Linked DNA regions of Homo sapiens. The protein of the gene in region 2 purifies or fractionates together with the protein of the main gene of each other region. This does not show direct contact. Each region holds a gene or a part of one and is shown on either strand. Other genes may lie near its edges.

Region 1 (4,820 bases), on a different chromosome or scaffold from region 2:
GACCGTTCACACACCCGTCTACCTACTTATCCAATCACTCAAACAGTATCTATTAATACTATATGACAAGCCCTCTCCAGGGCCTCAGGCTGCAATGATGAGCAAGATGTCCATTAGGTGGGATAGACAAGGTAAACTGGCAATAACAACCCTCTTTTATCAATATCCTTATCCCCTCATGTTCTAGCTCTTTCTTCTCTGTCTACAAACATAAAGGAACTCATCCTGAAAGAGCTTATCTCTGTCATCTCCTTCAATTACTTTTCTCTTTTCTTCCTTTTACCAATTTTCTTTCAAGAATGTTCTATTTTCAGGCTGGGCATGGTGGCTCATGCCTGTAATCCCAGCACTTTGGGAGGCCAAGGCGGGTGGATCACCTGAGGTCGGGAGTTCGAGACCACCCTGACCAACATGGCGAAACCCCATCTCTGCTAAAAATACAAAATTACCCGGGCATGGTGGCGCATGCCTGTAATCCCAGCTACTCAGGAGGCTGAGGCAGGAGAATCGCTTGAACCCAGAAGGTGGAGGTTGTGGTGTGCTGAGATTGCGCCACTGCACTCCAGCCTGGGCAATAAGAGCAAAACTCCATCTCAAAAAAAAAAAAACAAAAGTTTTTATTTTCATTCTCTCTACTTCTGAACCATTCACTTTTTAAAAAAAACTTTAGGTACAACTTACATAAAGTGTACTAACCATAAGTGTACAGTCCCATGCATTTTTAGGTTTGTATAAACCCACTTACCCACTACCCAGAGCAAGATACAGAAAACCGCCATCATCCTAAAGCTTCCCTCATAAGCCTTCCTTGTCAATACCAGAGCCTCCTAAAGGTGAGCATTAGTGTGACTAACATCTCCATTGATTAATTTATATGAACGTATATAAATGGACTCACTCAGTAGATACTCTTTTATGTTGGACTCCTTCAGCCACTTCGTTGCTTATAAAAGTTCCATTGTTTATAAGTATCACATTTATCTACTCTACTGTTAATGGACATAGGGTTGTTTTCAGTTTTGAAGATTACAAACAAGGCTGCCATAAACATTCATTTTTTTTTTTTTTTTTTTTTTTGAGATGGAGTCTCGCCCTGTTGCTGAGGTTGGAGTGCAGTGGCATGGTCTCGGCTCACCACCATCTCCACCTCCCAGGTTCCAGTGATTCTCCTGCCTCAGCCTCCCGAGTAGCTGGGATTACAGGCGCCCATCAGCATGCCCGGCTAATTTTGTATAGAGACGGGTTTCGCGGTGTTGGCCAGACTGGTCTGGAACTCCTGACTTCAGGTGATTCACCTGCTTTGGCCTCCCAAAGCTCTGGGATTATAGGCGTGAGCCACCATGCCCGGCTAAACATTCTTATACCTATTTTTGGTGAACAAATATACAAATTTCTCTTGAACACACACCAAAGCGGAATTACTGAATCATAGAATAGGTGCATTTTTAGTTTTCATTGATTCTGCCTAACAGTTAGTTAAGTCCTTTTTTTTTTTTTTTTTTTGAGACAGGGTCTCACTCTGTTGCCCAGGCTGGAGTGCAGTGGGGCAATCTCAGCTCACTGCAACCTCTGTCTGCCGGATTCAAACAATTCTCCTGACTCAGCCTTCTGAGTAGCTGGGATCACAGGAGTGCGCCACCACACCTGGCTAATTTTTGTATTTTCAGTAGAGATGGGGTTTCGCCATGTTGGCCAGGCTGGTCTCAAACTCCTGGCCTCAAATGATTTACCTGCCTCAGCTCCCAAAGTGTTGGGAATACAGGCATGAGCCACTGTGCCCAGCCTAAACAGTTACTTCTTAACATTGCAGTTCTCGGCATCAGCTGCCTCTGAGAATTACCCGTGGGGCTCCACAAATAGTCATGTACCACAGTAATGGACTGCATATAGGACAGAGGTCCTACAAAATTATAATGGAGCTGGAAAATCCCCATCACGTAGTGCTGCTGTAGCTGTCATCACGTCACAGCGCAACACATTACTCACATGCTTCTGGGGATGCTGGTGCAAACCAGCCCACTGCACTGCCAGCTGTGTAAAAGCATAACAGTACAATTCTGTTCAGTACATAATATTTGATAATGATAAACAACTGTCACTCATTTCCGTGTTTACGATATTATTTATCATTAGAGTGTATTCCTACTTATAAGAAAATGTTAACTATAAAATAGCCTCAGGCAGGTCCTTCAGGAGGTAACCAGAAGAAGACATTGTCATCATAGGAGACGACAGCTCCATGTTATTGCCCCGAGGACCTTCCATGGGATGAGATGTGGAGGTGGGTGATAATGTCATTGACCATCCTGAGCCTGTTTCAGCCTAGGCTAATGTGTGCATTTATGGTTTTTGTTTTTGTTTTTTTTTTTGAGACGGAGCCTTGCTCCAGGCAGGAGTGCAGTGGCGCCATCTCGGTTCGCTGCAACCTCTGCTTCCAGGTTTCAAGCGATTCTCCTGTCTCAGTCTCCCAAGTAGCTGGGATTACAGGTGCACACCACTACGCCTAGCTAATTTTTGTATTTTTAGTAGAGACAAGAGTTTTGCCATGTTGGCCAGGCTGGTCTCGACCTCTTGACCTCAGGTGACTCACCCACCTCGGTCTCCCAAAATGCTGGGATTACAGGCATAAGCCACGGTGCCCAGCCTACGTCTTAATTTTCAACAAAAAAGTCAATGTAAATGAGAGTTTTGAAATTTTAAAACTTGAAAAAAAGCTTATAGATTAAGAATATAAAGAAATAAAATATTTCTGTACAGCTGTACAATGTGTTTGTATTTTAAGCTACATTTTATTACAAAAGCGTCAAAAATTAAATTGTTTATAAATAAAAAGCTTATAAATAAAAAATTACAGTAAGCTAAGGTTAGTTTATTATTGGAAAAAGAAAATTTAAAAAATAAATGTAGGGTAGCCTAAGTGTACAGTGTTTGTAAGGTCTACAGCAGTGCATAGTAATGTCCTAGGCCTTCGCACTCATTCACCACTCACTCACTGACTCACCCAGAGCAACTTCCAAGCCTGCAAGCTTCATTCATGGTAAGTGCCCTATACAGGTGTACCACCTTCTTTTTTTTTTTTTTTTTTTGAGACACAGTCTTGCTCTGTCACCCAGGCTGGCATGCAATGGCGCGATCTCGGCTCACTGCAACTTCCATCTCCCGGGTTCAAGCGATTCTCTTGCCTCAGCCTCCCGAGTAGCTGGGGTTACAGGCGTGTACCGCCATGCATGGCTAATTTTTGTATTTTTAGTAGAGACAAGGTTTCACCGTGTTGGCCAGGCTGGCCTTGAACTCCTAACCTCAAGTGATCCACCCACCTCGGCCTCCCAAAGTGCTGGGATTATAGGCATGAGCCGCTGCCCCCAGCCCATTTTTTTCTTTTTATACCATATTTTTACTGTACCTTTTTAATGTTTAGATACACAAAAACTTATTGTGTTACAGTTGCCCACAGTATTCAGTAAAGTAACATGCTATACGGGTTTGTAGCCTAGGATCAATAGGCCACACCATCTAACTGAAGTGGGCTTTGTGTATACACACTTCATGAGGTTCCCACAATGACGAAGTCACCTAATGACACGCTTCTCGGAACATATCCCCGTTGTTAAGCGACGCATCGCTATTTTCAGCTGCCTTCTGGGTATTTTCTCTGGGTTCTTCCACTGATGTCACACAATCAGTAAGTCTGAAAACAAGTTCTATTTTTTTCCCCTTCAAGCCAGCTCCGCCTTGTGATTTTCCAGTTTTTATCAATGGCAATCAGGTCTCGCAATATATCCTGATTTCCCCCTTTCTTTCATTTTCACTGTTTTTTCCCTGATTCGGCCCTAGCTGTTGCTCAGCTGAATGTGCACAACGGCCTCCTCACCGATGCCCCTGCCGCGTCCTCATCCTTTACCACAATGCCCACCACAATTCTGCACATGCCACTCTGATGCACCAGTGCCCGGCAGAGCTTGCAGTGGCCCCCTGTGGCCTGTCATCCTGGCATCTAGGACCGGCCACTCTCCCATCTCAGGCCCTCCTCTGCCTCAACTTAAACTCACATCAAAGCAAACCATCCTTCACCAGCCTGCACAGGGATCCCCAAGGACCTGCTCTGACAGTGCCTTTGGGCCAGGTGACCTTATCCACACAGCAGGCAGTGGACCCTGCGGAATGGGGTGTCCCATCCTGGGGGTCCCAGCCTCGTGGGTGACAGCAGTCCGGGATCTCCTCCTGTCCTCTCAGTTGTATTCTCTTCCTCTCCTGCTCTGTTCTAAAATCCACCCAGCGCTTGGCCTTCCTCTCCCACGTCCAGTTCTTCACTTTCTCCTGAGCCCAGATGGGGCCCAGAACTCTTTCAGATGACACTTTGAACTTGCGCTCCATTGCCCTAGGCTTCTAGTGGGCCTGGGTACCTCACCGTCCCAGCCATTTGACCCTTGAATCCTGCCAGGGGCTGGCTTCCCTGATCCTTCCCTGCCCTGGCATTGTCACATTCTGGCTCTGGCTACAGCTAGTTGCATATCTGTTTTTCCTACTGTGAAGTCCCTGGAAAAGACATCTTTGCTCTCCCATCACCTAGGAGAGTGCCTAACCCATAATAGGCCATCAGGAAATATCTTTGAACAAATGAATACATATTTTATTGCATCTTTCCCCAAAACACTGTTCCTTGGAAAACAAGTGGCCTCATAAGACATTAATTGGTGTTCCATGAATAACTGAGTTTGGCATACAGATTTCCTCATGGAGAACCACAGTGCTCTTGGGCCCATAAAAGCTCTGATAAGTCCTGCAGCGAAGAAACCTGCTTAATGTTAATTCACTCAGCA
Region 2 (4,031 bases):
AGCTGCTCTGAGCTTTATTATCTGTGAGTCTGCACACTATTCATGAGGAGGGCAGGGCAGGGCTGAGGTCCTCCACAGGCGGCCTGCCTTGTTCCTGCAGGCCAGGGTGGACACAGGCGTGTGTCTGCATGGGCCCAATGTTTGCCCACCAGCCCACCCTCCTGTCCCAGGGGGAGCACCTCTCCCCTCTGGCCACCACTCTGCTGGGCGTTCAGGGCCGGTCACAAGGGGCTGGGCCCTTCCTCCGCTCACGACTCAGCAGGGTCACCAGCTTGGCCTTGAAACCTGCCTGAGGGTCAGGGCGGCCTGTGCCCTCCACCTGATCCAGCTCCAGCAGCCGCCGGTACTGGGCCTCCAGGGTACTGTCGTTGGCCGGGCCGGGCCAGCTCAAGTCCTGGCCGTTGTGGTAGATGGGACTGGTTGTGGGGCTGCGGCTGCCGGGGCCCTCGTGCGGCTCAGGTTCCCCACCGTGCAGCGTGGGGCTGGCCTCCAGCACACACAGGTTCTCATAGAGGTGCTCATTGCCTGGGGGCCCACTGGCACGCTTGCACACTGAAGCGTAGAGCCCGGACGCCAGATCGTTGGGCTCCGGGCCTAGCAGTAGCGGCAGGCTCTGGGGTCCGGGCTCGGCCAGGTGCATTTTCCTGGACGTGGGTGGCTCAGGTCCTGGTGGCATCTCCCGAAGCTCTCCGGGGGTGTCCAGGGAGGGCAGAGAGGTGGCCCGTGGCAGGGGGCAGGGCTGGGGCCTGGTCAGCTCTGGCAGCCGCTCCCGCTGGCGGGCGATGGCCCCGGCCACAGCCCTGCACAGGTCAGGGGCACAGGGGGTGCTGAAGGCAAAGAGGCCCTCACCCGAGTGGCAGCGACGGCCGGCCTCAAAGGAGAACACGCCCTGGGCACAGGGCACACGGGTGGGGATTAGCAGGAGGGTCCAGGGTGTCAGCCCCTCACCCTTTCCCACCCCTGCACCTCACCTTGTCGGAGCCGAACTTGCGCAGGAAGTGGTAGGGCCAGCTGTAGAGGGCCTGGGTGCCCTTGGCCTCCCTCAGCTGGATGGCGTCTGGGCCCAGCACCAGCAGGGCCGGCCCCTTCAGCTGGCAGCGGGTGGCGGCCTCAGTCCTCTGCACCACCACGGGAAACTCGCCCACTGTGGCAGGTGGCCAGGACAGCTCCGTCAGTCCCAAAAAGACCCAGCCCTGGGTGTGGGGGGCTGAGGCTGCCCTTGCACGTCCTCCAACTTACCTTCCTGCCAGGAGGAGTAGATGGAGTTTTCCTCCATGGGGACCAGGCCCCTCTTGGGAGACTGGGCATCTGTGGATCCTGAGGAGGCCTCCCCTGTCCCCTGGGGAATGAGTTCAAGTCAAAGGTGAGAGCACCGCACTCCCATGCCCTGTCCCCTCCCCTCAGTATCCCAGAACTCCACAAGCCAGGGGGCATCCAGGGGCCTGGGCTCCAGTTCCAGCTTTGCCCGGCTCGCTGCATAAGCCTAGGTCCCCTTCCGAGCCTGTTCTCCCACCTGGCTCCCCACTGAGAGTGCTGGGCTGGGCAAGAGGCACTGTGCTTGAGGGTGTCTGAGAGCTGCAGATCACTGGGGACACAAAAGGATGTCCCTTGCAGCCCCTGGGCTTGGCTGGGCCAGCTTCTGTATGTCTGACAGCCTAGAGCAGTACCCCAGGTGTCTTCCTCCATCTCACCACAGCCACCTGCTATGACCCTGCAAGGTGCCCCCAATCTCTGCCTCATCCCCACACCCAGGCCTTCAGCATGTCCCCTGTGCTCTTTCCCACTCAGCTCCTCTACTAGCACCACCCTGGCCCATAGCAACACAGCCGGGTCAAATGCCACAGCTTCCTCACCAGGCTCCTTGCTCCTGTCAACTGCCTTTTTTTTTGACATGGAGTCTTGCTCTGTCACCCATACTTGAGTGCAATGGCGAGATCTCGGCTGACTGCAATTTCCGCCTCCCGGGTTTGTTTTTTTTCTTTAAGATGGAGTCTCACTCTTGTCGCCCAGGCTGGAGTGCAGTGGCGCGATCTTGGCTCACTGCAAGCTCCGCCTCCCAGGTTCACGCCATTCTCCTGCCTCAGCCTCCCAAGTAGCTGGGACTACAGGTGCCCGCCACCAGGCCTGGCTAATTTTTTTTGTATTTTTAGTAGAGATGGGGTTTCACCATGTTAGCCAGGATGATCTCGATCTCCTGACCTCATGATCCGCCTGTCTCGGCCTCCCAAAGTGCTGGGATTACAGGCATGAGCCACCGCGCCCAGCCCGCCTCCCGGGTTTAAGTGATTCTCCTGCCTCAGTCTCCCAAGTAGCTGGGATTACAGGTGCCCACCACCATGCCTGGCTAATTTTTTGTATTTTTAGTAGAGACAGGGTTTTACCATATTGGGCAGGCTGGTCTCGAACTCCTGACCTCAGGTGATCCACGTGCTTCGGCTTCCCAAAGTGCTGGGATTACAGGCACGAACCTCCATGCCTAACCTCAACTGCCTTTTGTTTTTTGATTTTTAAAATATGATAAAATACAGAGAACATAAAATTTACTGTTTTAACCATCTTACTTTTTTTTTTTTTTTTGAGACAAAGTCTTGCTCTGTCGGCCAGGCTGGAATGCAGTGGTGCGATCTAAGCTCACTGCAACCTCTGCCTCCCAGACTCAAGCAATTCTGCTGCCTCAGCCTCTCAAGTAGTAGCTGGGATTACAGGCGTGTGCCACCACACCCAGCTAATTTTTGTAATTTTTTTTTAGTAGAGATAGGGTTTCACCATGTTGGCCAGGCTGGTCTCGAACTCCTGACCTCAGGTAATCCGCCTGCCTCGGCCTCCCAAAGTGCTGGGATTACAGGTGTGAACCACTACGCCCGGCCCATTTTACATCTTAAAGTGTATCATCAGTGCTCTTTTTTTTCTTTTCTTTTTTTTTTTTTTTTTTTTGAGACGGAGTTTTGCTCTCGTTGCCCAGGCTGGAGTGCAATGGCATGATCTCGGCTCACCGCAACCTCTGCCTCCCAGGTTCAAGCAATTCTGCCTGCCTCAGCCTCCCGAGTAGCTGGCATTACAGGCATGCACCACCATGCCCAGCTACTTCTGTATTTTTAGTAGAGACGGGGTTTCTCCATGTTGAGGCTGGTCTCGAACTTCTGACCTCAGGTGATCCGCCCGCCTCGGCCTCCCAAAGTGCTGGGATTATAGGCCTGAGCCACCGCACCCGGCCACCAGTGCTTTTTAGTATACTCACAAGGCTGTGCACTGTTGCCACTGTCTAGTTCCAGAACTTTTCCATCATCCCACATGGAAGCCCTGTACCCATGAGCAGCCACTCCCCACTTCTCCCTTCCTCCAGCTCCTGCCAACACTCATCTGATTTCTATCCCAATGGAGTTACCTTGTCTGTACATTTCTTTCTTTCTTCTTTTCTTTTTTTTTTTTGAGACAGGGTCTCACTATGTTGCCCAGGCTGATCTTGAATTCCTAGGCTCAAGCAATCCTCCTACCTCAGCCTCCCAAAGTGCTAAGATTACAGGCAAGAGCTACTGTGCCAGGCGTTTGTTTGTTTTTATGGCTGAGTAGTATTCCATCTTGCGGACGGACCACGTTTTGCTTATCCATTTGTCAGCTGATGGCCATGTAGGCTGTTTCCACCTTCTGGTGGCTGTGAGTAGTGCTGCTATGGACGTTCATGTCCATGTGGGTTTTTTTTTAAGATAGGGTCTTGCTCTGTCTCCCGGGCTGGAGTGAAGTGGCACGATTACAGCTCACTGCAGCCTCGACCTCTGGGGCTCATGCGATCCTCCTGCCTCACATGTACATGTTTTGTTTGAACACCTGTTCAAGTTCTCTTGGGCACACACCTAGGAGTGGACCTGTGGGCCACATGGTAACTCTGTTTACCTCTTTGAAGAACCCCCAGGCTCACTTCCTTTTGACCCATCACAGACCTTTTGGGGCTTTACAAACATGTCCGGCTTAAACCCTCCAAAGCCTTCGCCTCTCACTCAGAACAAAACCACACACATGGCCTAGGGCATTTC
Region 3 (4,820 bases), on a different chromosome or scaffold from region 2:
ACTATTCCCTGATAGAATAAATTGAATGATTTTATTTAGGAAGAAAACCTTTTCACCAAAATATCTCCTTAATAGTACAGGTCTGTAATCACTATTGTGAAATCCAAAAGGCTCTGAAATATTATAAGTTTGTGAAAAACTCATTTGGTGGCAAAACCTGACTTATGCCAATACTTTTTTTTATTCTTTGCCTGCTTCCTATAAATATTTATGTTTTGCTGCAGAATTGCTATTTTTATTAGTGCTGCCTCAGAACCTGCTGAGAGTGTTGCATGGTATATCCTGTATATACCGTATCATATTACTGTCGTGAAATCTAAACATTTCTGAATTCTGAAACATTTGGCTTTCCAAAGGTTTTACGTAAGGGATTGTAGACCTGTGCTGAAAATTCTACTAGTTGAGATAAATTGGATTTTACAAATTAATATAGGGAGTGTATACATAGCTATGTCTCAGTTAGTATTTTTCTTTCTTCTGATTGATTTGCCCATTTTGTTTTAAAATTTGATTTTTATGTTCACGTTATACCAATTTGTAATCTACTTTTGATTTTACTATAGCTGTGTGACTTTGGACAACTTACCTAACCTAACAGACTTTTAATAATTTCCCTTTTTTTTTTTTTTTTTTTTTTGAGATGGAGTCTCACTCTGTTGCCCAGGCTGGAGTGCAGTGGCTCAAACTCGGCTCACTGCAGCCTCTGCCTCCCAGGTTCAAGCGATTCTCCTGCCTCAGCCTCCCAAGTAGCTGGGACTACAGGGGCGTGCCACCATGCCCAGCTAATCTTTGTATTTTTAGTAGAGACGGAGTTTCACTATGTTGGCCAGGCTGGTCTCGAACTCCTGACCTCGTGATCCACCCGCCTCGGCCTCCCAAAGTGCTGGGATGACAGGCGTGAGCCACCGCGCCCAGCCTTAATTTCCTTTTCAGTAAGAGGTAGGATGATATGGTGTAGTGTTCAAGATTTCCTGGGTTCAAATCCAAGCTTTGCACTTAACTAGCTGTATGTCCTTGGCCTCTTTGTGCCTCAGTTTCCTTATCTTGAAGATGGGGATAATAATGATTGTACCTATCAAATGCGGTTGTTATGAAAACCAAATGAGTAAGTTTACCTAAAGTATTTAAAATAATGCCTGACATATGGGGAGGCCTTGTCAATATAAAAGTTGTGCTAGTATCATCTGTGAACTCTACCAGGGCAGGGATTCTGCTATTCTTATATTCTTACCTTTTATCCTGGTGCCTTACAAATGAGGGGGGCTCAGTAAATACTCATTGGATTGAATTATATTTCCTAAAATCCTTAATGTGCCGTCATAAAAGAGAGACAGTTATTACTATTTGGACTCCAAGTATGCTAAAATTTTTCTGTGGTAAATTAAATCTTTCTGATAATTGACTTAATATTTCCCCCCCCCCCTTTTTTTTTCCCAGAGTCAAACAGACGTATTACTGGAGGGGCAATGCAACTCTCTTTTACACAGCTAACTATAGATTATTATCCTTATCATAAAGCAGGTGTGTATAACAGCATCTTTAAAAGATATAAATGTTGTTTTCAAATTATATAGCTAATTTATTTAGTTTAGTTTTATCTTGCTTTTATTTGTTAACAAGAAATGAGATGAAGAGATTGGTATTTTTCTCCTGGCAGTATTTCATTAAGAAAGTAGAATTGCCATGGAATATAGTCATACAGTGTATATTGACATTTATATAGATTTTTAGAAATCATAATTTTTAGAAATTGACAGTTTTCCAAATAACCAATTTAAAACTTAAAAAAAAATCAGGGTACAGAGGACATGTGTTTGTGCTGTTTTGTTAGTTGTGACCAAAACAAGTTATTAATGTTTTAAATTTTTAAATGATTTATATATTTAAAAATTAGAAAAGAGTATGAAGCTAGGAATGAAAAGAGTATGAAGCTAAGAATAAGAGTATGTTTAGCTAAATTATAGGATTCCAGATTTCATAGGCTCTTAACAATCTGGTATTGGTAGATTCTTTCTCCCAAATAATGAAAAGAAAAAAAAAGTATGATTATTGTGACCAAATTAATTTGACTTTATACCGTTTTTGCCTTCTGTTAGTATTTAGCATTCACACAAGTGAGAAAAACCAAACTAGAGATCATAGAGTTTTCCAGGACATTTAAAAAATGGTAAAGTTTTTCTGTTCACACATTTTTGTTTACACGTTTTTTAACCAATGTTTGTCATTTCTATGTTGGTACCTGATTAAATTTAAAAGTTGTATGATTTTTTTTTCATTTTAAATTTTCATTGCCAACATTCAATATAATAATTCTCTTTTGAAGGATTTTGTCTTATATACTATCGTCCTGACTCATAAATTAACTTACAAATGCATAAAATTTTTAACTAGATATTTATTTTTGAAGAGGTGTGAAACATTCATAGAGTAAATTTTCTTTTTTTTTTTTGATCCAAGGCCTCACGAGTGCAGTGGTGTGATCACTGCTCACTACAGCCTCGACCTTCTGCCTCAGCCTCCCAAAGTGCTGGGATTGATTACAGATGTGAGCCACTGCGCCTGGCCTGATTTTATTGTCTTAACCCTTTTATGTGCATTTTTCTTAGTTGCTACAGAGAAGCCTAATGATTCTGATTATATATTTTTCTTCCAAAAACTAACTATGGCTGAGTACATCTTGAGAAGTTTTATTGGTTTCTTAAATGTTTTAATCATCATCATCTTATCATTTTTGTGGTTTAGGTTTTTGTTAGTTAACTTGATAACACATCTTTGAAGAAAGGATTCTATTTATTTGATAATATTTTCTGGGATTCAGTTTAATGCAGGTTTACCAGGTAATTGAGCATCCAGTGAAGGGTGACGAGTCATATGGCTTTAAATTGAATCTTAGTGATTTTCTACTAAGAATGGGTACTAGATAGAAACTCCTCCAGATGATTTGCTTTTGACATTCTTTCCCTCTGTTTCAAATGTTTTACTCATATTTCGAAATTACATGTAGGTGAAGCCTGTAAATTTTTCAGATATCAAAGTCTTTCTTGAATAAACGACTAAATCTCATTGGAAGCATTACTATAATATAATAAATGAAAGTTGTACATTTTTCAATGAAATACCTGTTGTTCATTTTACAGGAGATAGTTGTAATCATTGGATGTATTTTAGTGATGCAACCAAAACAAAAAATGGATGGGCCAATGAGTTATTGCATGAATTTGAGTGCAACGTTGAAATGCTTAAACAGGCTGTGAAGGATCATAATGTAGGTTCACCTCCTAAATCCCCAACACATGCCTCTCCCCAGCACACACAAACAGGTATTTTACCTATAATAGCATTCCCCTAATATTAAGAGTGTTTGCACTCTGTGTGTGTGTGTGTGTGTGTGTGTGTGTGTGTGTGTGTGTGTGTGTGATCATAGTATTTCCTGTAAATGAGTATTTTTTTTTCTTCTTTTTAATGTAGAGATGGGGGTCTTGCTATGTTGCCTAGGGTAGTCTCAAACTCCTGGCCTCAAGCGGTCCTCCCACCTTGGCCCTCCGCAAAGTGCTGGGATTACAAGTGTCAGCTACCATGCCCAGCCAAGTATTTTTTTTTTTTCTTTGAGACAGGGTCTCACTCTGTCTCCCAGGCTGAAGTGCAGTGGTGTGATCTCGGCTCACTGCAACCTCTGCTTCCCGGGTTCAAGCGATTCTCCTGCCTCAGCCTCCTGAGTATCTGGGATTACAGGCACATGCCACCATACCCAGCTAATTTTTGGAGTTTTAGTAGAACCAGGGTTTCACTGTGTTGGCCAGGGTGGTCTCAAACTCTGGACCTCAAGTGATCTGCCCACCTCAGCCTCCCAAAGTGCTGGGATTACAGGCGTGAGCCACCACGCCCGGCCTAAGCCAAGTATTTTTAATTAATGTCTAAAACCCCTGTATCCTTTGCTCAGACCAACATAGGCTTGTGGACCAAAGCACTTTTAAAATTAATACAACCAATAATAGTCACACCCAGGAAGAATTTTTCTAGAAGGTTTCTTTTTTTTTTAAGTCAACACATAATAATTGTACGTATTTATGAGGTACAGTGTGATACTACTACTTTTTTTTTTTTTGCTGGCCCAGTAAGCATTGAAATGTGATATTTTGATACATGTATACAAACGTATAACACTAAAAGCAGAGTAATTAGCATATTCGTCACCTCAGACATTTATTAGTTAAGTTGGGAGCATTCAAAATCTGCTCTTACTAGCTATTTGAAAAAATAAATTATTAATTATAGTCACCCTATAAATGCTAGAATTTACTTCTCCTATCTAGCTATACCTTTGTATTCACTAATCACCCATTGTCTGCCCCTCCCCTTCCCTCCCCCATACCCTTCACTTTCTACTTCTATGTAAATATGTCATTTTTAACAAGAGTCCCATTCCAGAGTTTTTGTAGAAGACTAACTTAAATGTGACATGTGTGATTCTTCTTAAAAGAATAATCATCACAATAACTTACATCCTGTATTACTTTATAATTTATAAAGTATGTCCACAAATATTATCTTGTTTGAGAAGTTAGTATTCACATATATTTCTGGTACCTGCCTTAATAATAAAAGAGTGACTGTTAAAAATAATTTTGCAATGAATTGAAAGGAGTTTTTGTTTCCAACAGAGAAGGACTACCCTCTGAAAGGGACATGCAGAACACCTTCAGTATTATCTCAACAATCAAAAGCTAAGCTAATGTCTAGTTCTGTTGTGGTTAGACTTGCAGATTTCAATATATACCAGGTATGTTTTCTTTTCCAATTAAGTTTTCTCATAAACACTT
Region 4 (3,595 bases), on a different chromosome or scaffold from region 2:
AATAGAATGGCAGAAAAAGAAAAAGTACACAGAATAATCCTGGATACTTTCTCCAAGTATCCAGATTAGGGAGTTCAATTTAAACGTAGTTAAATTAAGAGTTTAGACATAAAACTTAAAGTTTTCAATAGTCAGTTGTTAAATTTGCCATAATTTTTTCCTCTGGGTTCATTTTTATATCACATTTAACTCTTAGGAGGTCATTTGGAGGATTTTTGCATGCAGCAAAAACAGTAATACTATAAATTTATCCAAATTATGGCATTTTTCTTTTGAGACAGGACTTAGCTACTTTTGTTTACCCTATATTTGGAGTATAACTATTATTGGGAATTTTCACTCTTTTTAAGAAAATCTATTTCAGCTAACTCACACCAAGGAAATTTTCATTCTTGAGACAAATGTAGATTCGTTAAAATTATAAGTATTCATTATACTTATAATTTTAACTATAATTAAAATTATACTATAAGTATTCATTGAAAAAGTACTGATACATGAGCAATCTATGAAAATGAAGGTAACAATGACTGCTAATCACTACCATTTATAGAGCACCATGTGACAGGGATATGGCACTTCATGTTTATTGCATCACCTAATACTCCCACACTCTGAGGTAGGTATTTCTGTATCTTTCTTTTAACATATGAAGAAACTGAAGCTCAAAAAGGTCAAGTCACTTACCGAAGATCCCGAGGCTAGGATTATAATTTATGTTTCAAAGACCATGCTTTAACTACTTGCAGTCAAATGAATGACTGAAATTGAGTCATCTAATTAAATGAAGAACTACATTCTTTTAAATACTTACTATGTGAAGCATTGACAATGGGAAGCTACTTTTAAAATATACCATTTTAAAGGATAATAACTATTCTGGAAAGTGGGTTGAATTGAAAAACAGAGCCTAAAAGGAATGTTACTTCTAATATTAAGTATGAAGTCTGTCATCAAAAAAAGCACCAATATTACTTCACGTGGATTATTTGTAAAGGAATCATAATTTCTTGATTAGATACAATGACTTCAACCCAGATTTATTCAATCTTTTAAAAATAATAAAAACACTTTTAATAAACACATCTATTGATCATGTTTAGGTAAAGTATCTTGTTGAGTTTATAAACCCAAATACCAGTGACTTAGTGATAAAAATGAGAAAATAATTTGATTGTCCATGCACACTGAAATGCAAAACAGACACCAGAGACATAAACTGCATGTTTGGGCTTCACAGAAAACATTTAAGAGGTTGACACATACATACAATCTTAAAAATGTCACCCTCATATATTAGGATTACAAATAAGCATATTACATAATAGACTTTACATTCATGTTTTATACTGTATTTCCAAAACTTGTAACTATTTGAGATAATTTTACATTTTACTTTAGCTAATGAGAATGAAAATGCATATGAGTCTGACATTACTTAAAGCTGACTTTCATATTTAAGACAGTAAGTTTGAAAGGAACACTTCAAATGAAATATTAAAGGTAAAGGGTATATGTTAATAAAATGAAATCAATTAAGATTTACTCAAATGAAGGCTGGAAAAAGTACCCTTAATAGCAATCTTTAAAAAAAAATTGCAATTACCATGTCTTTCATTTGAAAAGACTGTCATGCAGGTGAGACATTTAGAGTAAATATGTACTACTTCCAATGTTTTCCTAGAAAAGGGTTTTATGTATCAGACACTCAAGGTAAAAAATAAATTTAATCTACTTTTAATATTTAGGTTACACCTCAAACTAATCTGACAAATCTTAGTTTTTATAAGGCAAAACTGCTAATACGAAAGCTCTTAAAATTCTTGTTTTATTTCTCCAAAATCTATAAAATAAGATTTACTCTTTATGAACACAGCTTCAACTACAAAATTCCTAGTTCAGTCCCTCTGCATATGGCAGATGACAGAGAAGCATCTTGTAAATTCTTTGTATTTCTCTTACAACTATCTAGCTATGAAATGAGAAAAAAAAATGTTTTAAATAAAGTACCTGACTTAGCCCCAGTAACACTTACATTTAAAAACTTACATCTAAAATGGTCTCTGAAGTGACCCCATTTCCCCAACACTTCCTAGTCTACCTTGGAAAGAACAAGGTATGGTATTCCAAATCAGGACGGAATTTGACAGCACAGAAACACTGACATAGATTATACTAAATGGCTAGTTACATATAATCTTGCATAGACTTTGTATGCAGTAAAATGTTCTCAGGTGATGAGGATAAGATGACAAATTAATATGGAGAAAAACCTTTGAAGACAAATCAGGACATTGGAAGGCAAAAGGTAGAAAGTGAAAATTTTGTATGTTCACCTGAAATGGTACATGTTTTTCTCTACTGAAGAGAAAAAGTTGTAAGATAGATTCTTCATCTTGGCTTTTCTAGGAAGACGATAATGTTATGCCAAAAGATTGCTTATCTTAAAATCAAAGGAGGGAAAAGGCTCCTTTAAAAAATACATATTTATACATACACACATAAATATACACACACACATAGACACATATATAACAGACAGTAATAAAAAATATTCTCCAGTGTGGGATAGGGGCTCTGCAATTCTAAAAGTAAAAATCTGTAATTTTAAATTAATCTGAAAGAAATCTAAGCACAGCTGAACTTAAAACTATTGTCTGAATCACAGAATTAGTCATTTTATTTTAAAAGTGCACATATTTTATTGAAAGATATCCAGTTTCAGCTTTGAAGATATAGGCTCAAAGTCTGTTCTTGGCTCTTCCAGAAATTCTGCTTCTAGAGTGTTCATAATTTCAACCAAAACTTAGAAAGTTTTTCTAAATCAGACTTTTCAACCTGCTGAACAGAACTCATGTCTATACTTCGATGTTTATTTTGGCAGCATTTGTCTCTGTGAAGCATATCAAAATCACTCAAACATCAAAACTGCTGATCTGATAGAATGATTTATTTTCCCATTACAGGTAAGTCATGAATGGCTTGTTCTGAGGTATGTTTCTGAGCTATGAAGGACACCTACTAGAAAGCTCCACACTTGAAGGGTTCTCTTAAGGTGGTAACATTTTATGGCTGGACAGTCTCTGCAGGTACCAGATTCCCTGTTGTATCCAACTGCATACATTTACACGTGCATGCCGACACAGGGCACTCTGCATGGTCCCTAAAAAAATAGGTCAAATAACAGTTAAAAATCCAAATTAGACAGACATACATTTATTTATTTATTTATTTTTTAAGAGACAGGGTCTCCCTATATTTCCCAGGCTGTACGCACACTTTTGGGCTCAAGTGATCCTCCTGCCTCAGCCTCCTGAGTAGCTGGGACTACAGGTGTGCACCACTGTGCCCACCTGTTTACTTATATCTATCTATAATGCAACTTTTCAAAATGGCATTTGGAAAAATATAGAAACTAAAACCCAGAGAAAAAAAGCATCAAAAGCATCAAATTATAAACTACTGCCAAGCTGAAGTTTAGGGAGAAGTTAAGAAACACATACCTTTTACTTTCTACATATATGGCAAGATATTTCATTTATAGTTGTGAAGGTGACAGGGATGTGCTCAGAGTTTAAATTAGCTAGTAAGACAA
Region 5 (4,820 bases), on a different chromosome or scaffold from region 2:
CTTGGCATGATGCTACCACTCTCTACTCCTGATTCCACAGCAGATGTGACTAACAGATGACTCTCTTCTTGCTGCACCCGACCACCTCGGTTGAAACCATTCGCCATCCCTAACCCAGGTAATATATGGAGAAGAAAAGAAAGCCAAAAACCGAATCTTGGAGAGCTTCAATATTGAAGGGCATTCAGAATAAGAGGAGCCAGTCAATAAGACAGGGAGGGAATCATGGGAAAAGATGTATGCAGAAACACAAAGCAGAGAGTTACATAGGCCTGCCTGCTTATACGACTAGCATGACTATTCGGGAAACTCCCTTTCCTGGGTGTAAGAAGCACGATCATATAATTTATTATCTAAAATGGAAGAATGGGGGGGCACTATTAATAATCATGTCAAGACAATAATAAAGGGTATGGAGAGGGACTACACGTTTGACCAATAAATATGCATAAGTAAGGCCGGGCGCGGTGACTCACATCTATAATCCCAGCATTCGGGGAGGCTGAGGCAGGCGAATGAAAAGGTCAGGGGTTCAAGACCAGCCTGGCCAACACAGTGAAACCCCATCTCTACCAAAAAATACAGAAATTAGCCGGGTGTGGTGGCGTGTGCCTGTAGTCTTAGCTACTGAGGAAGCTGACACAGGAGAATCGCTTGAACCTGGGAGGCAGAGGTTGCAGTGAGCTGAGATCGCACCGCTGCACTCCAGCCTGGGCGACAAGAACAAAACTCCATCTCAAAAAAACAAACAAAACAAAACAAAAAAACCCCCACAAATATGCAGAAGTAATATGAAATGATGAGGCTGACTGCAACAACACAGATGAGGGACTTGAGGCTCATCTGACCTTTCTAATAATCATCTTTGTCACACTCGCTGTCCTGCTTTCTACTTACCCAAACATTACTAGTCCTACAAGGATAATGACTGGCTCAAAACAATTACTAGCAAGCCACCAACACTAACTGCCCAGACACACAGCAATGTCCCCACACCAAACTCTTGTTACATATACTGTGAATTCTATTCAGAATAACTATGTTTCCTCTAATTATTTCATTTATATTAACTTTATTAGCCAAATTATATTTTTATTGCTAAATTCAATATAATGATGTTCCTCAAACTCAATGCGCTTGCCATAGTGGGATGTGATCATCGCTCAGGATTACTCCACATACATGATCTCAAATATTAAAATTCTCTCCTCTGATCACTATCTTCTGTTCCCTCATCTCTACTGTTCTCTGAATCCTTTTCCCACTTAATTAACTCTGCTATCAGTATCCCTGATTTACCACTACAGCTTCATCTTCACCCCATCATAACCATTCACCATCAGCAAACATTTACTGAGGGCTTACAATATGTCAGATGAAACCCATTCGCCATCCCTAACCCAGGTAATATATGGAGAAGAAAAGAAAGCCAACAACCGAATCTTGGAGAGCTTCAATATTGAAGGGCATTCAGAATAAGAGGAACCAGTGAATAAGACAGGGAAGGCATTCTGCTGCATGATGAAGATACCCAACTTATACACAGAAATTGAGCTTAAAGAGGCCACAGTTTAATGAAGACAAATGCATAAAGAAATCATTGAAATACAATATGATTGGGGCTAAAATATAGCTACATACTAATTAAAGGGGTAGCAAAGAATGAATTGAATTCCCTGGAACTATCAGGAACCAGTTCTACAGAATGACACATGGCACTTCGGGAGGCCAAGGTGGGTGGATCACCTGAGATCAGGAGTTCAAGACCAGTCTGACCAACATCGTGAAACCTCGTCTCAGCTAAAAATACAAAAATTAGCCAGGCACGGTGGCGCATGCCTGTAATCCCAGCTACTTGGAGGCTGAGGCAGGAGAATTGCTTGAACCTGGAGTTGGAGGTTGCAGTGAGCCAAGACTGCCCCACTGCACTCTAGCCTGATAGGCTGAGCAATAGAGTGAGACTGTCTCAAAAGAAAAGAAAAAAAAAATGAATGATACATGGAATGAAATGAGCCTCATGTGGAAACAAAAGAGGGAATATAGCTAGAGATAAGAAAAGCAGAAACAAGAAACAGTCCAGAAGGAAATCCGTGTACAGAATGAAACAAGCTAATGCCTCAAGGAATTCCAAGCAACTCAGAAAGGTCAGAGTGCAAGTCACAGGAAAAAGTAGCCCACAGTGAGCTGGAGGAGTAGGTAGAGGCCACATCACAGCAGGCTGTCCATGCCATGTAAGAGTTGAAGTGGAGAGTCATTAAATTCTTTTAGGGAAGTGGGCAAGGAGCTCTTGTTTGTGCTTTACAAAGATCTTTTGGATAACAGGGCTGAAAGATGGATTGGATAAAAATGAGAATGGAGGCAGAGAGAAGAATTCAAAGGTAATTACATACGTAAGAGATGATGCAGTTACGGCTTAAGGTGGCAATAAGGAGGGGAAGATTCTAGACATATTTAGGCAAATGGAATCAAGGAAGAGTGAACAGTGGGATATTAAATGTGAATGAAAAAAAGGAGTCTTGAAAAGCTCAAATTTCTTAGCCAGGCACAGTGGCTCAAGCCTGTAATCCCAGCACTTTGGGAGGCAGAGGCGGGCAGATCATCTAAGGTCAAAAGTTCAAGACCAGCCTGGCTAACATGGTGAAACCCGGTCTCTACTAAAAATACAAAAATTAGCCGGGTGTGATGGTGCATGCCTGTAATATCAGCTATACGGGAGGCTGAGGCTGCAGAATCCCTTGAACCTGGGAGGCAGAGGTTACAGCGAGCTGAGATAGCACCACTGCACTCCAGCCTGGGCAAGAGTGAGACTCAAAAAAGAAAAAGAAAAGCTCAAATTTCTGGGCTGAGGAGCTTGGTGGATGCCATAAATGGAGATAAAGTATTGAGGAAGAGCAAAAGCAAGAACAGGTTTGTGGAGATAAAATGATGAATCCGGTCACTTCTGAGTTTGAGGGATATTCTAGTGACATAACCTACCTATAGCCCAGTAATTACATAATTCTGAAGCTAAGTAGAATAATCTTGATAGTATATACAATTTAAGAATTATTCAGCAATTAAAACTAAGGGAAGGCTGCCCAGGGACAACATATAGAAAGGGATGAAAAGAGAAACCTAAGATAGAAACCTAGAGAACAATAATACTTAAGGTTCAAAAAGAAAATAAAAATAGAGAGTAAAATAGACAAAGAAGTGAGGAGCACAGCAGTAGGAGGAAGAACAGAAAAGGTGGTATCACAGAATGTAAGGGAGGCAAGAGTGTCAAGAGAAAGGAGTGGTTAGTGGCACAGCCTTACCTCTGACTCTTCCTGCAGCCGCAGACAGTTATCCAAGAAAAGAAGTGATCGGTCAACAGACTTTCTGACCCTTTTTATGGAAGTTGCTTCCTTACAAGATACTTCTCCATCGGAGAGGCACTGGAACCAGTCTGGCTGAAGGGCCTTCTGAATTGCCATGAACTTGGAAACAGTCATTTCCACTCGTCCTGCAACACTCCACACAGACACAGACTGCCATGGAGCAAAATGATGAGGAATTAGCAAGAGTAAAATGCAAATAAAAATAAAATAATTAAAATGATAAAGCAATAATTCTTCTTTACAACTGCAGAGATGGTGACAATTCAATATCCAGACATGGTGGGTAATAGGATCTTATAGCTTACAGATAATCCTTCAGTGGTCATATAAGACAACTTTTGAGCTACCCACCAAGAATTCTTTGTTATACTTTTCTAACATCTTCTGCTCTCCCCTATCCCACCTGCCCCACCCCTACCTAACCCTTGCTGTTCCTGAATATACCACAGACTTTGATCACACTGTTCCTTTTGACTGACAGTTCCGTATTTCTTTTTCTTTTTTTTATTGATACATATTTGTATAATGTTATGGGGTACATGTGAGACATCTTACATATAGGGCAAGTGTAATAATCATGTCAGAGTATTTAAGTATCCATCACCTCAAGTATTTATTATTTCTAGGTGCTGGAACTTCTACTTCTTTGCCTGGCAAAATACTACGTGTCCATTGAGACACTGAGTTCACATATTAATCTGATCTCCAAACCTCCTGGACATAATCGATCACTCACTCCTCTATGCTCTTACATCAATTTGTATTTATTTCTTTATAGAAATGATAGCACTTATTACACCATTCTTTATTTGTCTGACTAGAGTATCCCAATTCATGTATGTATCCCAAAAGCACAGTCTAGGGCCCTATACATTTTTAATATCTAGTGTTTACTAGACTGAGTTAGATATAGAATTAAAGACTTAAATCTCCTAGTTCAAGAGAGTATATATTAGTAATATTCTATCTTTGAGCTAAAAGCAAAACTACCATTCAACCCAGCAATCCCGTTACTGGGCATATACCCAGAGCAATATAAATCATTCCGCCATAAGGACACATGCATGCAAATGTACATTGCAGCACTATTCACAATAGCAAAGACATGCAATCAACCTAAATGTCCATCAATGATAGATTGGATAAAGAAAATGTGGTACATATATACCATGGGATATTATACAGCCATAAAAAAGAATGAGGTCACGTCTTTTGCAGGAACATAGATGGAACTGGAGGCCATTGTCCCTAGCAAACAAATGCAGGAACAGAAAATCAAATACCACATGTTCTCACTTATAAGTGGGGGCTAAATGATGAGAACACATGGACACAAAGAAGGGAACAACAGACACTGGGGTCTACTTGTGAGTGAAGGGTGAAAGGAGGGAGAGAAGGATAAAAGGTAACTATTGGGTACTAGGCTTAATACCTCAGTGATGAAATAATCTGTACAACAAA
Region 6 (3,534 bases), on a different chromosome or scaffold from region 2:
CTACAACTCTGGGTCTTCCCTGCTAACCAACTATTTTCCAAAAGAGCACATTACAATAAAAGAGAGGCTAAATTCCCATGCCCTTTAAAGAATATTAAGCCCAGGGACCATCTCCCCCATTCCCCATCTGGGGTATAGAATTAGTATATAAACCCACAGTGTTAACAGTGTATTGCTTTATTTGGGGTCTTGGGGGAGACACCAGGGAGAGGGAAGAAATCAAAGGACTATAAATGCAGGGTCCAATAATGTTAAAATAGCAAATATGCAAAATGAGTAACTGGAATCATTTTCTTAAGGACTCAACTCATGGAAGAAAAACTTTAATTGCTGTTTCCAAAAACATCAGTATGAAGTAGAAATTGGTTTCAATAACATTAGTAAAGAATATGTTCTAGAAAGTGGAGGTAACTGGATGTAAAATTCTGGCAGCAATTTAATAGAACAGTCCTAGAGGGTTAGGCTGAGGCCAACACCTAATGAGGACGAAAGCCTTGTCTGTGGGGAATTTTGGATGATACTTGGAGAAATATTACACTGTGCATAAACCAAATTGAGTTGCTTTCACAAGTGTTGTAAAGTTTCATATAGTAAAAGGTTTTTTCTACATGCACTTCAATTTCACAGCAAGAGTGGCAGAGAATACCTAAACACAGAAGAGAGCATTCATGCAAGATATCTAACTCCTTGATATAATAATGCATACAATTCAAAATGATTACACTATCATTACATCTAGGGCTTTCTGCAACTACACAGTGGTGGTTATGGAAAGCACTGCCCCCAGCATCGACATCTAGAAAGCATCCACCACCTTCTACATGTGTTCTCTTTTTGCGTTTTTTCTTCATTTTTCTTAATCAACTCTGCTGTTGTTGCTGCTTCTTAGCAAAACTGGTAAAAACAAAATTGTAATCATTGAACATAGCACTCTGGCAATCAAGACGCTTAAAACCTTCAATCTTCTGGGGCGAAGCAAGCACTGTGCGACATTTAGAACTCTGGGGGAAAAAATTAAATAACCGTTAGTGTTTGCAATCCAGAGAAGTATTTTCAACCAAAACAGTTAAGTGACAGACTTTTATCTTAATGAAACTAAGACATCTGAGTTATTTTAGCTGCCTTCTTATGTGCTGGAGGGGCCAGGGCATCTTATGGTTCCTCCCACCAGAGGCCTGTCAATAGCAAGACAGGAGGAACCCATCAGTTTGGCTAGACAGAAAACAAGGACTGACACAGGTCTAATGAAACAAAGCTTCTCAGCTACCAGTAACCTCAAACAATATTACTTCTGGATATCTGAGTGGCTGGTATATGTGCTATCTCAGAATACATCTTAGGCCTCACTGTCTCATTTCCTTTAAGATTTTAAAAATCAAATAACCTGATTAATAATAAAATATAAAATTACCTGATTAACAAACAAGGTGGTCACAAATTTTCCTGGCTTGAAGACTTCTACAACTTTCCTGATCAGGTCATCATAGGAGGTCTGACTTAAGTTTGTTTCAAAGCTAACATAAGAAAATTCTGGTTCTGGAGTGATGTGAATAGTCCAATAAGTTCCCTGAGAGAAAAAGTTCACAGTGTTAAGAATGGAAAGACTATTCACATTTAAATAATTATTGAAGCAATATATAACTACTCACATCCGATTTCATTCCATTCATCGAATACCCACAAGGATTGAACATTGTGGCATCAATGACAGAACCTGGTATCAGGTCACGAATTCCACTCTCCTGGGGGGGGAAAAAGACCGAGTTTAACAAGGGTTTGACAAATAAACTTCAATTGAGTCCAAAATTTAGTCCCAGGGTGGGAGAAGGGAGAGGACCAGGAAAAATAACTAATGGGTACTAGGCTTAACACCTGGGTGACGAAATACTGTGTACGACAAACCCCCATGACACAAGTTTACCTATGTAACAAACTAGCACTTGTTACCCTGAACTTAAAAGTTACAGAATGAAAAATAAAATTTAGTCCCCACGCAGAAGAGTCCAGCAACAATTATTACTAAAAATGCTTACACGAGTGACATCCTTTGCAGTAACACCATCTTTCATGTAGAACTGGTCCATAACTGCTGGGTCAAGCTCACTCATCAGAATTTCCAAGGTTTGATCTGGCTGACTGATTACCCGACTCTCTGGGAAATCCAGAGTATATAAGTACCTAAATAAAAATTAAAAATAGTTCCTAAAAATGACAATTGGCAGTTTAAATCTTACATAGGACAACAAAAATCCACAAAATTGCATTAAACATACCAACAGTCAGAATTCATACGTCCCATACAATATGCTGCTCCATCTGTTGAGGGAAGAGAACGCAAAATAAATATAACACATCCATTTAATAGGATGGTTTGTTACTACCCTTCCACAATAAGCAGAATGATACTATTTGCCACTTATTAGAAATGTCATCCATCAGTGGACTGGGCATAGTAGCTCATGTCTATAATCCCACCCCTTTTGGCAGGGAGGCAGAGGTGGGCTTGAGGTCAAGAGTTCGAGCCTGGCCAACATGATGAAACCCCATCGCTACTAAAAATACAAAAAGTAGCTGGGCGTGTTGGCACATGCCTATAATCCCAGCTACTTGGGAGGCTGAGGCAGGAGAACTGCTTGAACCCGGGAGGCGGAGGTTGCAGTGAGCCAAGATCACGCCACTCCACTCCAGCCTGGGTGACAAAGCGAGACGCCATCTCAAGAAAAAAGAAATGTCATCAGTGAAAGGAATGGAAACAGTAGGTAAATTCCCAGATAAGCAGGATCGACTGACTTGGCGGGTATTTGCAGTAAATACCCAACACTCTGATTAGCCTGGTTTGGTTTCATATTAGTAGATGTGCTAAGTTCAATTTTCATGCTTATGAGCGACTTTGTGCAAAGTTACTAAATTATCTTAGGTTTTCAGCCTTATCTAGGAAGTAAGGATGTTATCAGATAACCTTTGTTCCCTGACCTCTATAAATAAAAGCTTAGTAAATGGATGAAAGAAACCCTTACGAATTTCATTCAAGAAACACTAATTTACACTGTGCAATTTTAAAAAGCCAGGTCAATTATTATATAAAATGCTGGAGCAGAGCACTAGGCATTTTTCTGAAGGGAATCATATCCTTCTTCATATTGTCAAAGGACATTATGATCTGTATGTTAAGAACCACTGAGGCTGGAGGACTGCTAGAGGGCAGGAGTTCAAGACCAGCCTGGGCAACACAGCAAGATTCCATCTCTACTAAAAATAAAATAAAAATTAGCTGGGTGCTTGAACTCAAGAGTTTGACAATGCAGTGAGCTATAATGATGCCACTGCTCTCCAGCCTGGGAGACAAAGTGAAACTTGTCTCAAACAAAAACGCAAAAAGAACCACTGAGTGAGACATAAAGTAGAGTGAATGGCCAGATGAAGATGAACTCTCTCTATGCTGTATGAAAAATCAGAGGTGGCAGGTGATCAATTCTACATTTTAAAATTCCATCATTTAAACAGCACTGATTTATGATACACAATTATTTTTAC
Region 7 (4,820 bases), on a different chromosome or scaffold from region 2:
GGTGCAGTGGCTCACACCTTACCCTAGCACTTTGAGAGGCCAAGGTGCAAGGATTGCTTGAGGCCAGGAGTTTGAGACCAGCCTGACAACATAGTGAGATCCTGTCTCTACAAAAAATAAAAAATTAGCTAAGCATGGGGGCACGTGCCTATAGTTCCAGCCACTGGGGAGGCTGAGGCAGGAGGATTGCCTGAGCCCAGGAGCTCAAGGCTGCAGTGAGTTATGATTTTATCACTGCACTCCAGTCTGAGAAACAGAACAAGATCCTGTCACAAAAAAAAAAAAAAGCTGCCTGTCAAAGGTCCTATTACTTATTTATGTGTGTGTGTGTTTTTTTTTTTTTTTTTGTGAGACAGAGTCTTGCTCTGTTGCCCAGGCTGGAGTGCAGTGGCGCGATCTCAGCTCACTGCAACCTCTGCCTCCAGGGTTCAAGTGATTCTCCTGCCTCAGCCTCCTGAGTAGCTGGGATTACAGGTGCGCGCCACCACGCCCAGCTAATTTTTTTTTGTATTTTTAGTAGAGATGGGGTTTCACCATGTTGGTCAGGCTGGTCTTGAACTCCTGACCTCATGATCCACCCGCCTTGGCCTCCCAAAGTGCTGGGATTACAGGCATGAGCCACCGTGCCTGGCCTGTGGTGGTTTTAAATATGTCCATAAGTTCTTTAATATTCCTTCCTCTTCAAGAAGTGGAATTTAAGTCCTTCCCCTTAGTGTAGGCTACATCTAATAAATATGTGATAGAAATGAAAAGTGTGTGACTTCCAAAGATAGGTCATAGAAGACACTGTGGATTCTATCTTGTTGTCTCCTTTAAATTACTCACTCTGGGGGAACCCAGACGCCATGTCATGAGGACACTCAAGCAGCCCATGGAGCGAACCATGTCATGACGATCTGAGCTCTCCCAATAACAGCTGGTAAGGAACTAGAGGCCTCTGCTACCAGCCATCAGAGTGAGTCATCTTAGAATTGGAAACTCCAACTTCAGTCAAGCCTTCCAATGTCTCCAGCCCTGGCTCCCTGGCCAATGTCTTGACTATAACCTCATGAGATACCCTGAGGTACCCCCACTAAACCACTCCCAAATTCTTGACCCACAGAAACTATTGAGGTGAACAAAAATAACTATTTTGTTATTTAGCCATAGATAATGTAAACACTATGCCAGTGATAACTACAATTAGAGTACAAGGAGAAAAGACAGAAGGAAGACAATAATTACTGACCCCTTACTCTGTGCCAAGCACATGCTGATGCCTTTTCCTATGCTGTCCTACTTAATCCTCACCACCCTACAAAGCAAGTACTATTTCCCTCCAATTTACAGGTGATGTAACTGAGGCACAGAGTCGAAGTGATTGGCTCAAGGTCCCACTACTTGCCAATAGCATTCCCTAAGGTTTACCTAACTTGAAAGGCTGTGTTCTTCCCCCCATCACTCTGCTGAACTCCTACCTCTCCATCTTCCTACAATGCACTTTCCCAATGCCTGCGAGACCCTTCTGCAAGAGCTTATCATGGGGCTCAGGTGTGAGGCCAGCACTGCTATCAATGACAAGGACCCAAAAGGCAGGCCCTCCTTACCTTTTCCAGTCACATAGTAGGCCCCCAGTTTGTAGCAGCTATCACTGTGCTGGTTCTCTTCACAGTTAAACTTCAACACCTTGGCAGCCTCATCAAAATTCTTCCGGATCCCTTCCAAATAGTCCACCAGCCGATAGCAACCTGCGAGAAGAGGGCAAGGGTTGTTCTTCATGTCTGGGGCTGCTGCTCGCAGTGGGGACTTGGGGGTAGGGGGTGCCCAGGTGTGGCAGGCCAGGTGATGTCTTTTAAGACAGCCCCTGTCCTCCTGATGTGTGGCAAGTTGGCCTTACCACAAAGAATGTAGGTGGTGTTTAGCCATTCCTACAAATGGCATTGTCTCCCCACAGCCATGGACTGAGCAATGCATGGCTTGGGGAGACCTCAGCCCCTGCATTGGCTCTACCACTCACCAGCCCTTCTGCTCCCTGTCAGCCACGCCCAAGTATCCACTGACTTCCATGATTGAAACTTTGCTAGTTTTGGAATCTCTCATGAAGTTAAATGGTAAAAACAGTGAAAACCTAAAAGGCTCATAGGCTAGTCTTTGTAGCAGCAAGAAAAGGGTGCTGGGCCAGGCTCGGTAGCTCATGCCTGTAATCCCAGCACTTGGGGAGGCTGAGGCAGGAGGATCACTTGAGGTCTGGAGTTCGAGACCAGCCTGGACAGGGTAAAACCCTGTCTCTACTAAAAATGCAAAAAAATTAGCCAGGAGTGGAAAAATATAAAAAAATTAGCCAGGTGTGGTGGCGCACACCTGTAATCCCAGCTACCTGGGAGGCTAAGGCAGGAGAATCGCTTGAACCCAGGGGGCGGAGGTTGCGGCGGGCCGAGATCACGCCACTGCACTCCAGCCTGGGTGACAGAACGAGACTCTGTCTTAAAAAAAAAAAAAAAAAGAAAGAAAGAAAAAGAAAAGGGTGCTGTAATGACTATAGCTTACTCCTCAGCCAGGGTAGGAACATGAAAGCCAAAGAGAAAGAGTAGAGGCGGCAGCTTCTAATGAAAATAGGCTCTACTTCCTTGGCAGTCTCCCAGTCCCAGTAAACCTCTTTCCTTAATCTCTCTCCCCTCTTCTTTACCCCCAGTGACAACATATATCTCTCATTCATTTTCGTTCAACAAATATTTGAGCATCTCTATGCATCTATGTACCAGACATGGTTCTAGATGCTGAGAATATACTCATTTGCCCTCCTAAAATTTACATTCTAGGGGAGGAAATACAATAAATAAATAAATGAACAAAATTTATTCAAACAGTAATAAATGTTATAACAACTCAGAAACAGGAAGTGAAATACTGCATGTCCTCACTTATAAGTGGGAGCTAAATACTGTGTACACATGGACACAGGGAGTGTGGAATAATAGACACTGGAGATTGGGAAGGGTGGGAGGATGGTGAGGAATAAAAAATTACCTAACAGGTACAAGTGCATTATTTGGGTGATGGTTGGTTACATTAAAAGCCCAGACTTCCCCAGCAATTTGGGAGGCCGAGGCAGGCAGATCACCTGAGGTCGGGAGTTCTAGACCAGCCTGACCAACATTGAGAAACCTCGTCTCTACTAAAAATACGAAAATATTAGCCGGGCATGGTGGCGCATGCCTATAATCCCAGCTACTCGGGAGGCTGAGGCAGAGAATCACTTCAACTCGGGAGGCGGAGACTGCGGTGAGCCGAGATAGCGCCATTGCGCTCCAGCCTGGGCAACAAGAGCAAAACTCCATCTCGAAAAAAAAAAAAAAAAAAAAGCCCAGACTTCACAACCAGGCAATATATCCATGTAACAAAACTGCACTTGTACCCCTTAAATTTATACAAATAAATACATAAATGCTATGACTGAAGTAAAACAGGATAACTGTTTGCTGTCAACTTTGGGTGAATGGCTAACAAAGACTGAGCCACTGGGGAGGGGCTCACCAAGGACTGTGACCTCAATAACAAGAAAGCACTAGCTATTTAAAGACAATGAAATGGGAGTGGGGCAGGGATTTGGAAAAAATTTAAAAATAAAAAATAAAAAATGAAATTAAAAGACAATAAAATGGGCAGGGGCACAAAGTCCTGGCACAAGGAACAGTAAATACAAAGACCTGAAAGAATAAGTTTGGCACGAATAAGGTACAACATGGCTGAACCAAGGAGGAGGGTCAGGAAATGAAGAAGGAAGGTAGGGACCAGACCATAGGCCTCGTGAAACATAGGATGGAGTTATGATTTTTTCCAACTGAAACAGTAAACCACTGGAGGGTTTCAAGAAAATAAGTAATATGATTCAGGCCAGGTGTGGTGGCTCATGCCTGTAATCCCAGCACTTTGGGAGGCCAAGGCGGGTAGATCACTCGAGGTCAGGAGTTCTAGACCAGCCTGGCTAACATGGTGAAATCCCGTCTCTACTAAAAATACAAAAATTAGCCAGGCTTGGTGGCGCACGCTTGTAATTCCAGCTACTTGGGAGGCTGAGGCAGGAGAATCACTTGAACCCGGGAGGCAGAGGTTGCAGTGAGCTGATATCGTGCCACTGTACTCAAGCCTGGGCAACAGAGCAAGACTCAGCCTCAGGGAAAAAAAAAAAAAAAAAAAAAGCCAGGCGTGGTGGAACACGCCTGTAATCCCAGCTACCTGGGAGGCTGGGGCAGGAGAAGTACTTGAACCTGGGAGGCAGAGGTTGCAGTGAGCTGAGATTGCACCACTGCACTCCAGCCTGGGCGACAGAGTAATACCCTGTCTCAGAAAACAAACAACCAAAAAGCCACCAAAACCAAACAAACAACCCCACCCCCCAACAAAAACGTTACTCTGGTATATATGTTCATATATGCCTGAGTATGGAGGAATTTAATTATGTGAGGGTATATAATTGGGCATTGATAACAAATAGGTTATTTTAAAATCTAATATTTAACATAACAAAATTGAAATTAAAATATCAGTTTATCTGCGAGTAGAAATGGATTTTAAGGGAGTAAAGTGCAAAGAGAGGGACAGGTTAGAAGGCGACTTCAGTTATCCAGGTAAGAAAGTGGGACATGCAAGGAACTACTACACCAGTCGCTACGGTAACTATAGCCTCTTCTCAGGTCTCGTAAAGTGCTGCAGCCAGTCCTTTTGATATATCCACCCTTCCCAATTCCAAGAACTTGCTTCTCAGACATGTTTTGCTCTCCATTGCCTACAGAGCAAAGTCTATATTCCTTACCCTGGCATTCAAGCCCTGACATACTGTG

The links.
Region 1: the proteins of DOK3 (region 2) and INPP5D purify together in Homo sapiens (co-immunoprecipitation; one study listed by IntAct). This does not show direct contact.
Region 3: the proteins of DOK3 (region 2) and BLTP3B purify together in Homo sapiens (affinity purification with mass spectrometry; 3 studies listed by BioGRID and IntAct, with this or other methods). This does not show direct contact.
Region 4: the proteins of DOK3 (region 2) and MIOS purify together in Homo sapiens (affinity purification with mass spectrometry; 4 studies listed by BioGRID and IntAct, with this or other methods). This does not show direct contact.
Region 5: the proteins of DOK3 (region 2) and QTRT2 purify together in Homo sapiens (co-immunoprecipitation; 2 studies listed by BioGRID and IntAct, with this or other methods). This does not show direct contact.
Region 6: the proteins of DOK3 (region 2) and AMD1 purify together in Homo sapiens (affinity purification with mass spectrometry; 3 studies listed by BioGRID and IntAct, with this or other methods). This does not show direct contact.
Region 7: the proteins of DOK3 (region 2) and COA7 purify together in Homo sapiens (co-immunoprecipitation; one large-scale study listed by IntAct). This does not show direct contact.

Annotation. Positions count from the first base shown.
Region 1 is NC_000002.12:233,171,475-233,176,294, reverse strand, and holds part of INPP5D (phosphatidylinositol 3,4,5-trisphosphate 5-phosphatase 1), read right to left. Parts: intron 1-4,820. UniProt on the Homo sapiens protein: Phosphatidylinositol (PtdIns) phosphatase that specifically hydrolyzes the 5-phosphate of phosphatidylinositol-3,4,5-trisphosphate (PtdIns(3,4,5)P3) to produce PtdIns(3,4)P2, thereby negatively regulating the PI3K (phosphoinositide 3-kinase) pathways.
Region 2 is NC_000005.10:177,503,772-177,507,802, forward strand, and holds part of DOK3 (docking protein 3), read right to left. Parts: intron 1,340-4,031; coding exon 1,240-1,339; intron 1,145-1,239; coding exon 972-1,144; intron 890-971; coding exon 212-889; 3' UTR 1-211. UniProt on the Homo sapiens protein: DOK proteins are enzymatically inert adaptor or scaffolding proteins. They provide a docking platform for the assembly of multimolecular signaling complexes. DOK3 is a negative regulator of JNK signaling in B-cells through interaction with INPP5D/SHIP1.
Region 3 is NC_000012.12:100,082,976-100,087,795, reverse strand, and holds part of BLTP3B (bridge-like lipid transfer protein family member 3B), read left to right. Parts: intron 1-1,437; coding exon 1,438-1,521; intron 1,522-3,137; coding exon 3,138-3,320; intron 3,321-4,661; coding exon 4,662-4,780; intron 4,781-4,820. UniProt on the Homo sapiens protein: Tube-forming lipid transport protein which mediates the transfer of lipids between membranes at organelle contact sites. Required for retrograde traffic of vesicle clusters in the early endocytic pathway to the Golgi complex.
Region 4 is NC_000007.14:7,606,564-7,610,158, reverse strand, and holds the end of MIOS (GATOR2 complex protein MIOS), read right to left. Parts: intron 3,164-3,595; coding exon 3,067-3,163; 3' UTR 1,227-3,066; downstream 1-1,226. UniProt on the Homo sapiens protein: As a component of the GATOR2 complex, functions as an activator of the amino acid-sensing branch of the mTORC1 signaling pathway. The GATOR2 complex indirectly activates mTORC1 through the inhibition of the GATOR1 subcomplex.
Region 5 is NC_000003.12:114,069,315-114,074,134, reverse strand, and holds part of QTRT2 (queuine tRNA-ribosyltransferase accessory subunit 2), read right to left. Parts: intron 3,510-4,820; coding exon 3,297-3,509; intron 1-3,296. UniProt on the Homo sapiens protein: Non-catalytic subunit of the queuine tRNA-ribosyltransferase (TGT) that catalyzes the base-exchange of a guanine (G) residue with queuine (Q) at position 34 (anticodon wobble position) in tRNAs with GU(N) anticodons (tRNA-Asp, -Asn, -His and -Tyr), resulting in the hypermodified nucleoside queuosine (7-(((4,5-cis-dihydroxy-2-cyclopenten-1-yl)amino)methyl)-7-deazaguanosine).
Region 6 is NC_000006.12:110,890,943-110,894,476, reverse strand, and holds part of AMD1 (S-adenosylmethionine decarboxylase proenzyme), read right to left. Parts: intron 2,317-3,534; coding exon 2,274-2,316; intron 2,179-2,273; coding exon 2,034-2,178; intron 1,743-2,033; coding exon 1,650-1,742; intron 1,568-1,649; coding exon 1,412-1,567; intron 1,002-1,411; coding exon 861-1,001; 3' UTR 1-860.
Region 7 is NC_000001.11:52,691,141-52,695,960, forward strand, and holds part of COA7 (cytochrome c oxidase assembly factor 7), read right to left. Parts: intron 1,728-4,820; coding exon 1,587-1,727; intron 1-1,586. UniProt on the Homo sapiens protein: Required for assembly of mitochondrial respiratory chain complex I and complex IV.